Linked DNA regions of Homo sapiens: region 2 is linked to region 1. The links come from fine-mapping of genetic effects on gene expression. A gene starts in region 1. The other region holds a variant in brackets. All regions are shown on one strand. Distances are from middle to middle. Region 1 holds the start of GRM8 (glutamate metabotropic receptor 8). Region 2 overlaps GRM8 (glutamate metabotropic receptor 8).

The links. PIP is the estimated chance that this variant, and not a neighbour inherited with it, causes the effect. A credible set is the group of variants that fine-mapping cannot tell apart.
Region 2: its variant is the best candidate, but not a certain one, in a credible set for the expression of GRM8 in lymphoblastoid cells (GEUVADIS, PIP 0.51).

Annotation. Positions count from the first base shown.
Region 1 is chr7:127,249,412-127,257,748 of GRCh38, forward strand. GRM8 (glutamate metabotropic receptor 8) reads right to left here and starts at 3,530. Exons shown (of 11, transcript NM_000845.3): 1 at 3,386-3,530. RefSeq lists an enhancer at 4,368-4,617 and a silencer at 4,738-4,797.
Region 2 is chr7:126,927,380-126,935,716 of GRCh38, forward strand. The region is part of intron 3 of GRM8 (glutamate metabotropic receptor 8); the gene reads right to left. Among named protein-coding and RNA genes, the nearest start is that of MIR592, 130 kb to the right of the region's middle. The variant C/G (reference allele first, on the strand shown) is at 3,968.

The DNA of each region.
Region 1 (8,337 bases):
CATAATTTATTTACCAAAGAAATATCACCATTAATAATGGTTAAGGCTAGCAATGCAACAAGCCAGAGCAGAGAGCTAGGAGTCAGGAGCGTCTCAACAGTACCTCTCAAATCATTCCAACAGCATTGCCCACCACTGAGAAAGGGTGTCCTGGGATGAGACAATATTATGCTCAGCGTCCCTCCCAGTGAGTGGGTGAGTTTGTCGCAATTTGTCAAATTACCAAGTAGAAATGAAAATCAAAGAAAAAAGAGAGAAAGCCCAAATCTAAATTCCAATTCCTAGCAGAAAGAAAACCCTCTCTTGAAATGGAAACAATAAGCCAGCCAACTCTCAGCTCATAGCCTCTCCTGGGAACAACATGAAGTGGCCGTCCCTATTGAATGAACCACATTTGTGAGTCTGGGGATGCCCAGTCAGAGTCTATCAAGAAAACAGCAAGTTTCCTGAACCTCCGCAAGCCAGCCAACTTGACAGACATGGAGATGTGGCCAGGTCTTGGCTGTGGGTCCAGGAAGAGAGAAATTCAAGCAGCATCTTCTTTTAAGACACTGGGACAGAGCAACTCCACTCCCCCCAACTAAAGCAAGGTCATCTTTATGATGGGCATTCTAACTACCTGAGAAAGGTGGTAGGAAGGAAACTTGGAAGGAAAAAAACATGTGTGTAGTGTGCTGTACATCGTGCCCTGAAGACAATGGAACATTCATACACAAAGATTGGCACGCAATTGCCAATGTGAATGTCAGACGGGTTATTTGCTGCATAAATACCAATTAAACAAGCCCCGCAGCAGCTTCAACCTGCTCAGCCAACTTTGAAAAGAGCACATCTCTCCAGACCTCTAACTTTCTCCTGCACTCACTGGAGCTCAGCTCTTCCTTTTCTCTATTCCTTTTGGATGTAGATGTTTTTAGAATTATTCAAGCAGCCATAACTTTCGAACGGTGCATAACAGGGCAGAACTAGCTAGCACAATCCAAACAGAACAAATTGAGCCTAAGGAACAGTATACAGCTGTGTTCTCAGTATCTTCTTCTTTATTCCGGGTCAATTGTCTCCTACAAAGCCTCCCGTCATCTATTTCTCCCCACATCCCTTATTCAAAAGCAAGAATTCTCTATCTTAGACATGGTACAACCTGTAGTTGACTCTAAAATGGAAAAATTGCATTTTAAAAAACCTTGGTTCATTTTCCCTGACGGAGGAAGCTTTTCTTTTCAAAATTATCAAGCCACACGTTTTCAAGAACCAGAGAATGAATTGCACACAGCTGATTCTGCCTCCTACAGAGATCTTTCACGGTATTATTCACAAGCAAGTGACCAAGGTAAACTAAAGTGGTTTCTGTAGCCATTTGCAATTATTGACAAACAATTTCATAACGGAAAGTGGAAATTACAGGCAAGTGCAATAAGCTGTTTATCCACGATCTACCTGCTGGTGGCTCTTTTTCTCTATTTTTCTTTCAAGCAAAATACAAGCTACCATAGGAATGCTTTTCTCCCGTTCATGATTTTTCTTGTATCTCCACCACCAACCCTGTTTTCCAGTTCTGTCAGTTGGCAGGATTTGTATTCAATCGCGGTAGTAGCCCAGACTCTAGTGTATTCTTGGGTGTTCCAGAGACTCCCGCACCTTCAGGTTTGTGGGAAAGGATCCCCCAAATGGCAAATAAGGCACTCCCTCCCGGGGTGGGACTTGCTTAGGGGACTTAAGGGTTTCTGCAACCGGCGAGGGGGTCTGTTTTCACCCCCGCTATCTTGGGTGCGCAGACACTCTCTGACACCAGGCTTCACAGTTTGGGCCACGGGGGAAGTAATTCCCCAGGGAACCGCGGGGGTGCGGTTTTGCGCAACTGGGTGACTCGCGTGTCCCTCCGCATTTCATTTGCACCAAGGGAGCGCGTGTCAGACGAAGGGAATTTTTTTTTCTTTTTTGGTGATTCTGTTATTTTTTCACCAACTGTACGAAGCTCAAGGGATATCCGAGCTTTCTGGCTGGGCGGATGGGCTTCGCGCTTGGCATGGCTGAGCGGTCCATCTCTACCTCTCCGTTTCTATCTCTACCATAACAGCGACCACTCAGCCCGCCAGGAGCCCCTGTTTCCCAGCGCAGGTTCCTTTTTCTTCTCAGTTCCTTGGGCTGTTGAAGCCGGGTTCTGGGTAGATAGAGACTGGGGCCGTGGGGAGAGCGCCAGGCTGCTTTTGCCTTTCCCGCGCCCCGGGGCATTCCGGCGCGCTGGGGATGCAGCCTCCGCCCCCGCCGCACCTGGCCGCCCGAGCGCCCGCGCCCACGCCCCGCGCGGGGCCGCCCGAAACTGGGGCCGCGCCAGCCGCGGGAGCTACCGAGGAGCTGTTGGGGTGCGTTTGCCTTTGCTTTTTAAACAAGATCCCCGAGACCTTTTCTCCATCCCCCCAACCCCCAGCAGGACACGGAACTCCGGCGTTTCTCGAAAGCCACAAAAGAGGGGCACGGAAATCCCAAGCTCGCCGTGCTAACTCGGAGAACGCAAACTCGAGGCAGAGCGTGCGCCGTGCGGGGATGTGGGTGTCGAGGACCCCGAAGCGCCCGGCTTCCCCCGCGACCCCCATCCTCCCTAGATCCTGGTTAGACATCCATCCAGCCCACGCTCAGAGGGCGGGGGTTACCCCGACTCATCCCGGAAGCCGCTAACTTCAGAAATCCCTCCTGTTAGGTTCGCGAAACGAAGGTACCTCGTCATCTCGGCGGGGCAAGTCCGGATTCCACCAGGGCAGGTCCGGGAGGTCACCCAGGGCAGACGATCCGAGGCAGAGCGCTTTAAAATCCTGCCGCCGCACGCCCAGTCAGAGCGCCGAGCGCGCCTGCCCCCTTCCCGTCACCCTTCAGTCTCCCATTCGCCGACTAAACTTTTGGGGGATCACATCTCCAAGCCTTGGGAGTTCCGGGTAAAGTCTCCCTCTTTTCTGAACCTCTTTACTGTAATGTAATCATGGGCAGACAAGAGGGGTGGCTGCCTTGTTCTTTGCAACGTAAAATCAACAGACACCCAATCAAGCTCCAATGCCCGGCCAGCCCCTCGCCCCCTGGTGCCCACTCTCCTTCTCCCCCCATTCCCGTCACCTCCGCCCGCTATTTCTCTCACAGACTACGGACATGCAGGGCCATCTACTTGTGCTCAGGAAAAACAAATCACTAGAGTGATATGAGAAGGAATGGTGCACCTGGCTGTCCGCTGAAAGGTTTTAGAGAAGAAAACGGAAAGGGGAATAAAACGGGGGGATTCTCCTTTTCCAACAAGCAGGGCGTTTTGGGGAAGTTTGGGGGCCAGGGGCTTTTTGTCCCGTGGTTCGGCACTTGCTTTCCTCGGAGCCGCTTTCTGCTGCCGGGCGGCGAGTCTTACCCTGCTCCCCGCAGAGGGCGCGGTGAGGAAGCCCGCCGGGGGCCCGCAGCTCCATGTCAGCGCCGCCGCCGCCGCCGCCGCCGCCGCGTGAGGCGAGCACAGCGGCCGCACTTGTGGCTGATCTCTGGGCTGAGGGGGCTGAGCTGGCCTAGCAGGCGCCAAGTCTCTTCCATGTGAATAACAAATACTCCCACCGGCGGCCGCGATTGGTCTGCGCCCGGCGCCTCCCGATCCTCCGCCCGCGGCCATTCACCCGGCGCGGCGCGGGGAGCCGCGGCCAGGATCGCGCCCGGGATCGCCAATCGCTTCGCGCCAACCAGTCACCTCGGGAAGCGGGAGGAGGAACCCCCGAGGGGCGGGAGCCTCTGGATTTCGGTGTCACCCAGCGGCCCTGGCGCGGGCAGGGAGGGGGACCCTCGGCCCGCGGATCCCCCTCCGCTCTTCAGCCTGAAGCGACGAGGAGACCAGAAATGTCAATAGTTCTGATTTTTAAAAATCATCCCCCCTTCCCCGCCCCCAAGAAAAAGGGGAGGACCCAACTACAGAGTGAGAGGGTGGGAAGAAGCGGGAGCGGTAGAAGAAGGAATATGGTTGTGGAGGAGCCCAGCGGCTCCGGCTGCCTGGCGAGCCCGGGACCGGCGCGGGGAGGCGCGACGCCCGCCCGAGCACAGCGGGCAGCACCCGCGAGCCCGGGTCCCCGGTGAACACAGCTCCAGAAAGCGTCACCGAGAATAACACATGGTAGATGACAAGTGTCCCGCCACATGCTTTCTTTTCGGGAATGCTTAAAGTAGAGCCGGCAAGCCGCGCGGTTCCCTTGCAAAGTTTGCCTGGCGCCGCGCGGCGGTTCCGCCATTTGTCCCGCCCCGCGGCTCTGGCGATTGTCTCCCCACTCCCCGCCCCCGAGGGTCTGAGGGACGCGTGCAACAGAGTCCCCAGGGCTCGAGGTACCACACAGCGCGGTCCGCTGCGGGCACTGCGCAGGAAGGGGCATGGGTGGCTACCGGGACGGTCATTTTATTGAGATGATTCAAGGAGCCGCAGACGCGGGGCAGGAAACTCCGGGGGAGCCGTGCTCGGGTTCTGCAGGGAAACCTCGGGATTCCCTTCGCATGCCGCATGCGGAAACCTGCCGGGCTCGACGTGCACAGTCCAGCGCTCCTCCCCACTAGTTACTGCCCAGGCCCCCCGATCCTGCACCCGCCGGAATGAGAGAAAGTAGCCCCTCGCCGCCCAGCTCCCGGGTAGCTGCTCCGGCCGGGCCTTGCGTTGGTGAGAAAGTTCCATCTAGAGGCGGCCGCGCGCAACTGCAGGCGGCGCCCTAGGCCCGGGCGAGCCAGGGAGAGCGGGGCGCGGGGGGAGAGGGGGCAGCCCAGGAGATAAGGAGGATGGAGAAGGACGGGAGAGACCCCGAAAAGGCAAGCTCTAGACCCCCGTTCGGCATCTCTACAATGAATTTTATCTTCCTAAGCATCATGAACTTATAAGCATTATGTCAGGAATCTTTCATTAATTCCTGTATATATCGCCTGTTCTGTTCGGGTTATTTTAATTTTCACATCAACTCTGTGAGATGGTCAAAATTATTAAGCCCACTCTACAGATGGAGGCAGAAGCCGAGGCTTAGAGACACGGCTGGAAAGTATTACAGCCAGAAATCAGTGTCTGGCTTCAAAACCCCATAGCACTTCCTCCCTGGTGGTGTTGGCTTTTCCCAAGGCTGGTTGTAATGTGCGAAGTTTCGATTGAGGAAACAGCTGTCTCTCTCCTAATTTCAAAAAAGGACCCTTGCCCTTTGTCACTTAGAAAAAATCTACAGGTTTTCAGCCCAGGGCACCTCTTCCCCTTTCGTTCCCTTCCTTCTCCCATCTCATGAGAGGCTCTTTGATTGTTGAATCATTATTTTATAGCTGCAACCACAAAAGAGGGAGGGAGGAGGATTTGGAGAGAGAAAATGGGCTGGGTCCTCTGTCTGAAAACCTTTCTGCATAGGGAACCTCAATTCCCTGTGAATGTCTAGTGCAGCTCTGAAGAGGGTGATCAGTGTCCGGTGCCACTTGGGACAAGGAAGGTGGGAAGAGGGAAGAGCTCCTAATTTATGCGGAGATGGGGCTGGGTGGACTTCCTGGTTGCACGCCTGCGTGTAAGACGCTTTAAAGATTTTCTTTTCTTAGGGACTGGAAGAGATCCCTCCTCCCCCAGAAGTGTAAAGTAAGTGCAGTGGCCTGATTTCTATAGCAGGAAGCCCACTCCACCCCAAACTCCAGACCCATGATCCCGGTCTGAGCAATGATATCACAGATAACGTAGAGGTATGAATAAGTCCGTTTTAGACCATTTACTACGTGTGCATTGATAAATTTGAGGGGAAAAGAGACACGACGGAGGGGAAAGGCAGAGGAGGCCCGCAAATACGTTGGGCATCGACAACTGCTGACCACACATCGTCTTCAGGGTAGGCTAGAGGCCAGCTGCAGGGCCAGTTGGGTCGTTGCCTGGCATGAGCCAAGAGGGCAGCAGCCTGGTGCTCTAGTGGGCCCATTTTAATAATAAGGGCAATAAGGCTGGCTGTGGCTTTGGAAGCCTAAGGAGGCCGAGTGAGCCTCTTGGGGAAGAAATGCCTAATGAGCTGCCTTTCTCCTTTCCCTATTGATCATTACCTGCAGAGAACTGATGTCTTACAGGCACATCGCTGCCCTTTTTGGTGCAGCCTTCTGCGAGAAAACTAGACTTGATCTCTCCTAAGGAAAGTGCAAGTCCGATGCTTCGTTTTGCATCATCTTTAACTCTTGATACTCAAAATAGAACCATCACTCAAATCCTACATGGAATCTGGTCAATAAGAAATAGAGCCCTTCTATATATTCTTCAGTGTTTCCAATGGCTTTATCTAGTAGCCCCTGAGCAAGTGACACAGCCTTCTGTACAGGTTATAATTTGCCCATGTACAGGTTATAATTCGCCCAGACTGATAGCAACACTGGGACACAGGAAGAAAGATTGTCTCCAGGAGGGACTGGTCCTTATCAGTAACATTCACAGGAAAAAGTTATTGGCTGTACAACCTCTATTCGTCAGGGCCAAACACCATGATGCTGCTTGCTCATTGCTGCAATCTGAGTCAGGGGAGAGTGTCTGAAGACCAGGCCGTCCAGACATGCAGCTTATTCTAGAGTCATCCACCTTGCCTCCCCTTGGGATCCCACCCTCTGCAATACACACTGTGTCTTTGGAAAGTGTCTGACCTCATCCTCCATCCCACCCCAAATGTTTATTCAAACCAAGTATATTTCCTAGTAGTTAATCCTCCAGGAAGATTTGCCTATAATCTTCTCATTTTCAGTTGATTTAAAATGTGAGAAACTGCCCATGTGTTAGAAAATGCAAAAAACAATGCCATATGTTTGGGGTCCATTTAACTCAAGCTGTGATACATATTCCACACATGGAGATTTATGCCACAATTCCTGCTTTGGAGTAATCATTAAGGCTGAGAACCTTTGCAGGCTACTCACCCAAGAGAAATATCGACAGCATGATGCTCCCACATGGAGCAAAGCTGACAGGGGAAAGTGGGAATGGGATTTGTTTCTTTTGGAAACGAAGACAATATTTTTCTTGCTAGACCATCTGCACATGGCAGTGAGTGTACCATGTGGGTTTTGCTCAGTTTATTAGACACTGGCTGCTAGAAGCAAGATCAGACATGTTAGACTGACAGTCAGATAGAGCCAATGAGATTCATGACACCAATGTCATGAATGAGTGTGTTCTGCACTTCCACAGTCAACTCATACCTGCATACAGGAGTCATGGGAAAGATTCTTTAAGAATTTCTGACATATGGTATATGGGCATCTCTACTGGCTTCATTTGGGTTCCCCTAGAAGCACAACCTGAAACAAGGATTCAAGAGCAGGTAGTTTAAGAGGTGAAGGGAATCCCAGTACTCAGGTGGGGAAGTGAGCCAATAAAGGGTGCATTATCAAGCTAGGTATCACTGTAGGCACCTGGTACCTAATCCCAGTGGGGAACTCTGGAAGTCAGTGTAAAACACACAGCAGAGAGTGGGTCCAACTGAGGGATGAGGGAGCTGGGGTATCTATACACCAACACTTATAAGATGTTAGTTAAGAACTGCTACCAGATGATGTTTATTCTCTGGCAATTCTAGCCTATCACATGGATGGCAAAGCAGCCTCCAGAGATCATGTAAAGACCTCTGGAAAAAAAATGCAGGGGCTGGCAGTTAGTAGGCAGGTGATATGTAATCAGGGGTCAAGGACAAGACAATAAGGGCAGGTCACAGTTAGCCTCTGCAACACCTGTTTAGGCAAACCTCATAAAACTTGTACTAATCAAGGCAGTGCCTCTCTATGTGTGTTGCAAGGACCACCTGCCTCAAAATCACAGGGGTGCTGATTGTAAGCACAGATTTCTGGGCCCTATCCCAGAGCTGTTTGAATCAGACTTGCTGGGATGGGGCCTGGGAAGCTGCCTGTTTTGCAAACGTTCCAGGAAATGACGTTCACTAAAATTTAAAATGTACTACATTCAGGAAATCATTCTCCTCACAGGCAGCCAGCAGGCAGCACATTTAAATATATGAATACTTGCTTGCAATGCCTAAGGAGGCAGACCTGAGAAATGAGGAGCCCAGGGAAGGGGTGCCTATATGCTCATATCTGTCCATGGCCACAGAAGCTCTCTTTTCTCTCTTTTACTCCACTCTCCCTTTAGATGGGGTTTAACACTGAGAAGGTTCCATCGAGTATTTTCTGGGGGGAAAAAGAGGCTGAGCTCCACCCCTAACTTTGCCATTAATAAGTCATATTATCTTGACCCTTTCACATTTCTATACTGCAATTCCTGACCTATAACATGTGGTTGGCAAAAAGACACCTGTCCAGCCAAGGTTCATGTTCCCCTTTCAATAATGTAGAGTTTTTACT
Region 2 (8,337 bases), 320 kb before region 1:
TCCCTATTCAGCCTCCAAAAGTGGTGGGATTATAGGTGTGAGCCACCATGCCCAGCCTGTTTATTGTGACTTTAAAAATCAAAGGGCTCTTTTAAGTTTCTGCTACTTGTGACTGGACAAATGGTCTGTTAAACAAATTTAAAAGAAAAAAACAACCCCATCAAAAAGTGGGAGAAGGGTATGAACAGACACTTCTCAAAAGAAGACATTTATGCAGCCAACAAGCATATGAAAAAAAGCTCATCATCAATGGTCATTAGAGAAATGCAAATCAAAACCACAATGAGATACCATCTCATGCCAGTTAGAATGCTGATCATTAAAAAGTCAAGAAACAACAGATGCTGGAGAGGATGTGGAGAAATAGGAACACTTTTACACTGTTGGTGGGACTGTAAACTAGTTCAAACATTGTGGAAGTCGGTGTGGCAATTCCTCAAGGATCTAGAACTAGAAATACCATTTGACCCAGCAATCCCATTACTGGGTATACACCCAAAGGATTATAAATCATTCTACTATAAAGACACATGTACATGTATGTTTATTGTGGCACTGTTCACATTAGCAAAGATGTGAAACCAACCCAAATGTCCATCAATGATAGACTGGATTAAGAAAATGTGGCACATATACGTCATGGAATATTATGCAGCCTTAAAAAACGGATGAGTTCATGTCCTTTGCAGGGACATGGATGACGCTGGAAATCATCATTCTCAGCAAACTAACACAAGGACAGAAAACCAAACACTGCATGTTCTCACTCATAAGTGGGAGTTGAACAATAAGAACACATGGACACAGGGAGGAGAACATCACACACTGCAGCATGTTGGGGGGTGGGGGGTGGGGGGCAAGGGGAGGGATAGCATTAGGAGAAATACCTAATGTAGATGACAGATTAATGTGTGCAGCAAACCACCATGGCACATGTATACCTATGTAACAAACCTGCACATCCTGCACATGTGCCTGAACTTAAAGTATAAACTAATAATGTGCAAGGTGCCCAGGCATGGTAACTCACACCTGTAATCCTAGCATTTTGGGAGGCCAAGATGGGTGGATGGCTTTAGCTCAGGGGTTCAAGACCAGCCTGGGCAACGTGATGAAACCCCATCTCTACAAAAAACACAAAAATTAACCGGGTATGGTGGTTTGCACCTGTAGTACCAGACACTTGGGGGGCTGACGTGGGAGGATCACTTGAGCCCAGGAGGTGGAGGCTGCAGTGAGCCAAGGTCATGCCAGTGTACTCCAGCATGGACAACACAGTTAGACCCTGCCTCAAAAAAAAAAAAAAAAAAGTGCAAGGCACTGTTAAAGCATTTGCTGGCCTAAAAGATACATAAAATAGTTCATCTTGTGTGACTTACTAAATATAATATGGATACCATCTTTGACATGTACATTAAATATGACGTCTACCCTTATAATAATAGGAGGAACTACAAAACTATTTTAAAAAGAAAGTGTGAACACTTTTAGGGAAAAAAAAATACGTATTCAAGGGTGATGCAGAACCTCAGGTCCAATCTGGCTGTATCAGAGAATCCTCTTGCAGGTCAGAAAAGGTTGTCTGAGGAAGCAAGGCTGGAAGCAGACTGTCCACAGGCAAAGGTGTTGATGCATTTAATGGGCTCTGGCAGCTGCTTTCACACATACTCAGTATGGAAGGAGGAATTGAAGTAGAAAAAAGGAGGAAAACGAAAGGAACAAGAAAAAGGAAATTTGCTTAAAGGAATTAATAAGTAAGCAAGAAGACCAAGGGGAAGAGACATTATATCATATTAATTCTATAAGCATAAAAAAGCTTAAAAATAAGATAGTCCAATGCCAATGTGATTTAATTATTATGTTGCCCCATTTGAAAGGAAATACTGCCTTTTGTAATCTGTCTAGTGCTAGCCAGTGGAACTTTCTGCTATGACGACCACATTCTATAGCTGTGCTGTTGAAGACAGCAGCCACTAGCGTCATAGGACAATTGAGCATATGAAATGCAGCTAGAGTGACTAAAAAACTGAGTTTTAAATTTATTTTTATTTTTTATTTTATTGTATTTTTTTGAGATGGAGTCTTGCTCTGTCACCCAGGCTGCAGTGCAGTGGCGCGACCCCGGCTCACTGCAACCTCCACCTCCCGGGGTCAAGCGATTCTCCTGCCTCAGCCTCCTGCATAGCTGGGACTGCAGGCACAGGCCACTATGCCTGGCTAATTTTTATATTTTTAGTAGAGACGGGGTTTCACCATGTTGGCCAGGCTGGTCTCAAACTCCTGCCCTCAGGTGATCCACCCCCCTCAGCCTCCCAAAGTGCTGGGATTACAGGCATGAGCCACCATTTCCAGCCTTAAATTTAAATTTAAACAGCCACATGAGGCTAGTGTCTATCCTTTTTGAATTCTGTACTCATACAGAATGAGTACAGAGAAGAATTCTGTACTCATACAGAATGAGTACAGAGCAGAATTCTGTACTCATACAAGATTTAAAATATAAAGAAACTTAAACTTAAGGAGGACCTAAGGGACAAATTCCCCTGTTTGGGAGATAATTAAATAATATTTGTATTGGTCTTTGCAATTTATACTATACTTTCATGTATTTCATTGAATTAATAAGAATATAGAAGCTAAAGATGAATGTGGAGTCTCCATCAACAGAGGCCATAAGAAAGGAATCATAGCCCTGTGTCTTCACCAATTAGAATGTGATTCTCATGGAGCAAAGCCCTTACTGAGCTATATTAGATAGGAAGGAGACAACAGTGATTAAGAATGAAGACTCTCAGCCAGACTGCCTGTGCTCAAAACCCAGTTCCTATTTCCTGGCTGTGTGATCTTACTGAAGCTACTTAACTTCTCTGTGCCTGTTTTCTCCTTATTTTAATGGCAATAGTAGTAGTACTGACCTCATAAGAGCTGACATGAGCTATATGAGCTAGCACATGCAAAACAGCTAGAACAGTGGCTGGCATACAAAATAAATTGCTCAGTGTTGGTTAGAAATTAACCAAGGGATCGGCAGTCCTACAGAAGAGGAAAACCTCTTTTGGGAGGACACACTGCTCTGGTCTTGCCGAGTCCTCCTTCTGACTGTGATATGTTTTTGCCTCAGGAATGTCAGATGAGGTCTCAGACAAGGTTCTAGACAAGGGAAAGCACAATATTAAACAAATAATAATGATGGGTCTTCAACCAAGTTTTCATTTCCTCTGATAATCCAATTCCATCATCCTATCAGCCTAATTGTTATCCTATTTAGTTTTCATGGCCACTTTTCCTTCTAACTTCTAATGGGTTACAAAACATAGTTAAGATTATGAGCTGATAATTCCTATCAATTATTAAATGTTTTCATGTGAGCCGAGTATTATAAGTGATATTCATAGTCAGAATTCTTGGAGACCGCTACTTTTCACCTTGCAACTGAGGTGTATTTTGTATTCATAATCCTTGCTCTTTGCTATGCCCTGGCCTGTTCCTGAACTCTCTCTTTGTCTGCTTTTCCAAGCCTCCTCTGTCCCCATCCATCTGGCACTCACATACCCCCTCACTTCTGCTTCCACCTCTCTCCAGCAGGCTCACTGCTTGGTGCAGATGGAGAGATACTTTTGAAGTTTTCAGGAAATCCTCTCAAGGGCAGTGAAACAATTTGTCTGTGAGCAGAGATGATACTGAATGCATTGGAATGGAGGTAAAATTTAGAATATCCAAGGGAAAAATGCGTTAGTTAAAATAGAGGATGATTTTTAAAATAATTTTCAGGAGTAATGGGAAATAAAGATTTTCAAGGTGTGCCAGAGCTAACAAACCACAGCATATGACAAGAGCTCCTACAATTGCTAAGAAATAAAATGCAAGAATATATTTTATTCTCTTCCAAATACAAATTCAATGATGTGCTTTGAATCAGTACATGAAAATACTCAGGTTGCAAAGATTCTGTGAAAAATGGTAATCT[C/G]TAGGGGCTTATGCATTAATCCTTACCTGAGGCATGCTTTTGCATGTTTAGTATAAATTATTCTTTATAAAATTGCACTGAGCATAATAGGACATGTAGCTTGTAACTAGGTTAACAAACAATAGATTAATAGCATTTCATATCATTCACAGATAACTAAAAAGTCAAAAACCCAAAATATTAATAAAGAATTTAGAAAACATTACTTCAAATAGAAGTCAAATTCATGTTTTGGAAAATACTAGTATTATCTCAATAATTTCAGAGGGCAGAAGTCTCACCAAGACAACTGAACAATGTAAATATGTCTTTATAATTCTTCATTTTCTAGTTTGAAGTTGTAAAAAAAACTTCATAGGAAGAAAAACACAGTCTCCTGCAACAATGTGAGTTACTAATGAGTCCACTGCTTCCTCAATCTCACACAACATTCTAGACAAATGCCTCAGCCAGTGCTATTGAGTGACATCAGCTCACATTGCAATATATTTTCTGATGTGTATAATAAATTACAAATACTTAATAATTTATCATGGTTGCTTTGAGAGCATCACACAGCACTTAGCATCTAACTCAAAATAACTATTGCCCTTCTCACAACAAATTCCAAAGCCCTCATTTTTCTACTTACTATGCTAATTAACATTCCTTTTAATCTTCTTCTTTAATTTATCCTGTAAATTTTAAAATAGCATCTTAGAAAGAAACTTAAGGGTAATCTTGGGTCAACCTTACCAGTGCAGGAATCTCACTAGCATCTCTAAAAGATGGCCATAAATGATTTTTTCTATTCTCAAGACTGTTTTATGTTGGTTGGTAGGTTGACTACTTTGTTTAGTTTGCCTTTGCTATGAGTCTTTCTTTAGAATCTATTAAGTTAATTGTGGCATTCGGACATTTATTTAAAGGGCAGTGGAAACCAAAGTGTGTAAAGGCTAATACTCCTCAATGCCAAAAGTAAGGAAGTTAAGAAAGGTCAATCAATGATTAAATTGTTTATCATTAGTTAATATAAAATAAAGGATGTATTTTTAGCTGACAAACTAAATTCAAGGTTGGCACTACACAAAAAAAATCACAGACAACTGAATAAAGAATTACCACAGTATTAGTTATTTAAGACACGTTCCTGTGTATCCATGGTTGATCAACACACAGGATTCTGAGAAAAATTATTTTATAAAAGCATGGTGCTCACCTTAAAGAGTACACTATCTTGCTAGAGAAAATAGACATACATATTAAGGCATATTATTGCATTCAAAGGGTAGCAGGTAAATAATATACAAATATGCCTAGAGACTACAAATTAAGTTTAATGAAATGAGTTAAGCACTTTCTTCTCTCCACTTTCTTGGAGAGGTTCAGGTCTTACAAATTAGGATATGTGAAAAAAGAATAATAGTCCCTTATAGCCAGGCAGGGGTGAATATTATAGGTCACATAAAGAAGAAAAATTCAAAAGAACTCTCAGAAATGAATTTGTGTGATTCAGATTGTGGAGGCAAGAAAGAGAGAGATAGATGGATTCCCTCAAATGTCCGATTAAGACAAGATTGGCTATGAAATGAAGTAGAGATCTCAGGTTGTGGAGTTATATCATATCAAGAAGCAGTAAGTTAAGAGAGCTGTCAGAGTTCTAGTGGCTGAAACCTATCCCTATCCAGGAAAGGCTAAAACCAGAATGAGGATGACTCTGATAGTGAAAAGCCCAAGATTCTTTCTCTAAGGAATTATGTGTGCTGACTCCTAGAAAGACCCATCCTCTCACAGTTACAAGAATGACGCCTTCAGCATCACAAACACAGCTGCAATGTGGCTTAGCCCCCAGCAGAATGCAATTGACAGAAACACATTTATCTTCCTCTCCTCCAGAAAATATTTTTAAAGGGACTGGATTCAAAGCTACAGAAAAGCAAGGGGAGGGCTCCTTTAGGTTGTACAGTCAGGTGCGAAGAGCAATGCAGGCAAATAGTACATCCTGGAAAGAGTTAAGAACATAGATTAAGGATTGGATGAATGTTATCTGGAAATTTCCTCTAGTCAGGTAAAAGCTGAACACACCAAGCTCTATGACTTGGTCCAGTCTCTGTTCCGTTCACACTTCACTGGCTACTTTTAACTATTCTCTATGTAGCCTTCTCTGAACCCACATTTACCAATCCCAATTAAATTCTCACAGCACCTGGTGTTCTTAGCACTAATCACAGCTTATAGGTCAATAACTCTGGACATACCGGCTGATAATGTAGGAGGACAGTGGGGAAGTCAAGGGCTCTGTGCTGTGGAGAGAAATGCTAGGGTTCAAATCTTGGTTCCAACAATTCCTAGTTGTAAATAAATGTATTTCATACCTCATAATGTTATTGTAAAGATTAACAACCAGTACATGTAAAGGATGCAGAAAAATGTCTGTCATGTAATATGTGCTCAATAAATATGGGGTAACATCATCCATGGACCCATGAGAGCAGGAACCATGTCTGTTTCATTCTCTATCACCTCTCTGGGACTAGCACAATGTTTGGGAAGTAGCAGAGCTTAGTGAATACATGTGGAGGGCATGAATACTTAATCACTTCATTCTTTGCTACCCATTAAGCCCTTGATATATTTGTTGATACATGTTTACTGTGTCTCCTTATTCCCCAGTTGCTAGGGGTAAGACATTGTTCCTTTTGTATGCCCCACACAACTCTTCATGATGTTGATACTTAAACTTAACCAAGTTCTTTCCCAAATACTTAAGGAGTCAGATTTAGAGAAATGTGGATGGAGGCAAAATCCCCTGGAGTTCTCAACTGTGCTATCAAGATGCTTCTACATTATAAAATGGATATAAAAATACATAGCTCTAGTATATATTTAAGAAGGCAAAAAAATGGTTTATTCCTCTAACTTATCAACTGAGAGTCTTTCAGCCACAAAATGTAATTATTTAGCCCCACTCTAAATCATTCATAAAAATGTTCAGTGATGGGTCTCCACAGCATGCTTATGACTTTTTAAAATTGATTTTAATAATGGTGTACATGGAGGTTAAACCACAGAGTTAAAAATGAACATACTGGCAATATCTAAGCCAGAGAAATAGCAATACAAAAAAATTGAAAGGCAAATGAATAAAATATATCTTCAAATGACTGGCAATATTAAAGTCAAAAAACATTAAATAGTATGAGATTACACTTAAGGGTCAGAGACAGAAATCTCAGATTCTTTGTACCTGTAGTTAGGGTCAAAAGAGAGACAGTAAACACTTACATGGGTCAAATGAGACATGGGCAGAAACTAGAATGGCTGGTTGGTAGGACTGGATCTAAAGGAGGTAGTCTTTTCTGTGATATAATTTCTAGCTTTCTGAGAGAGTCTTTGCCTTCATAAGCAATATTACTTAGCATAAATCTCACAGTTAGAGCTTAATTTCTTTGACTAAGATAGTGTATGTTTCTCAAAGAGGAATACTTTGACTCCTTGGAGGTTTGGAGCCATGTGTCAAAAGATTGTGCAAAGCCACAGGATAAACATAGCTTATTTTCCTGCAAATTATGTTTTTCTTAAATATTGGAAGCATAGGGAGATGAACGTTTTAACTGGTAGTAATTTAGATCATTCGTTTATTTAACAAATGAATAAATTATGCTGTAGAATGCAAATCTTGTACATGTAAAGAATGCAGAAAAATGTCTGTCATGTAATATGTGCTCAATAAATATAGGGTAACATCATCTATGGACCCATGAGAGCAGGAACCATGTCTGTTTCATTCTCTGTCACCTCTCTGGGACTAGCACAATGTTTGGGAAATCTCAGTAGAATGCAAATCTTGCATTCTACATTTTTAAAAACAAAGCATGAAACTACAGAGAGGCATCATGTTTGTGTAGATCACTTTAGGGTACCTAGGGCTTTAGGTTGAAGAGGGAAACTTCCATGGCAAAGACGCAAAAACAAGAGGGAAAGGAAATGAAGGACACAAAGACACAGTTCACTGTTTTGGCTGAGACCCAGAACTCCTTAGCTCAGAACTACTAACAGCAAAGGTGGCAGAGATACCATGGTAGAGTCTGCAAAATGCAAACTTACTAGAACTGGCAATCTTCAACACCTAGGCAGGATGGCAGCAACTAAAGCTCACAAAACACTAGAAAAGTATGTTATCAGAGTTGAGGAGATGCTATGTGGACATGGGGGAGGAGAAGAACAATTTCAAGGTCTGAATGAGACAAAGGCCAGAGCATCAGATCTGCAGTTACTTGTCAACTCACTGAATGGTGAGGGATGCAAAGGCACAGGTGTGCACACTAGCAAGGTTCAGAAGTGAATTTTGACAATTGTGTGTTAGAGATGATAACAGTTCAACTGAGATG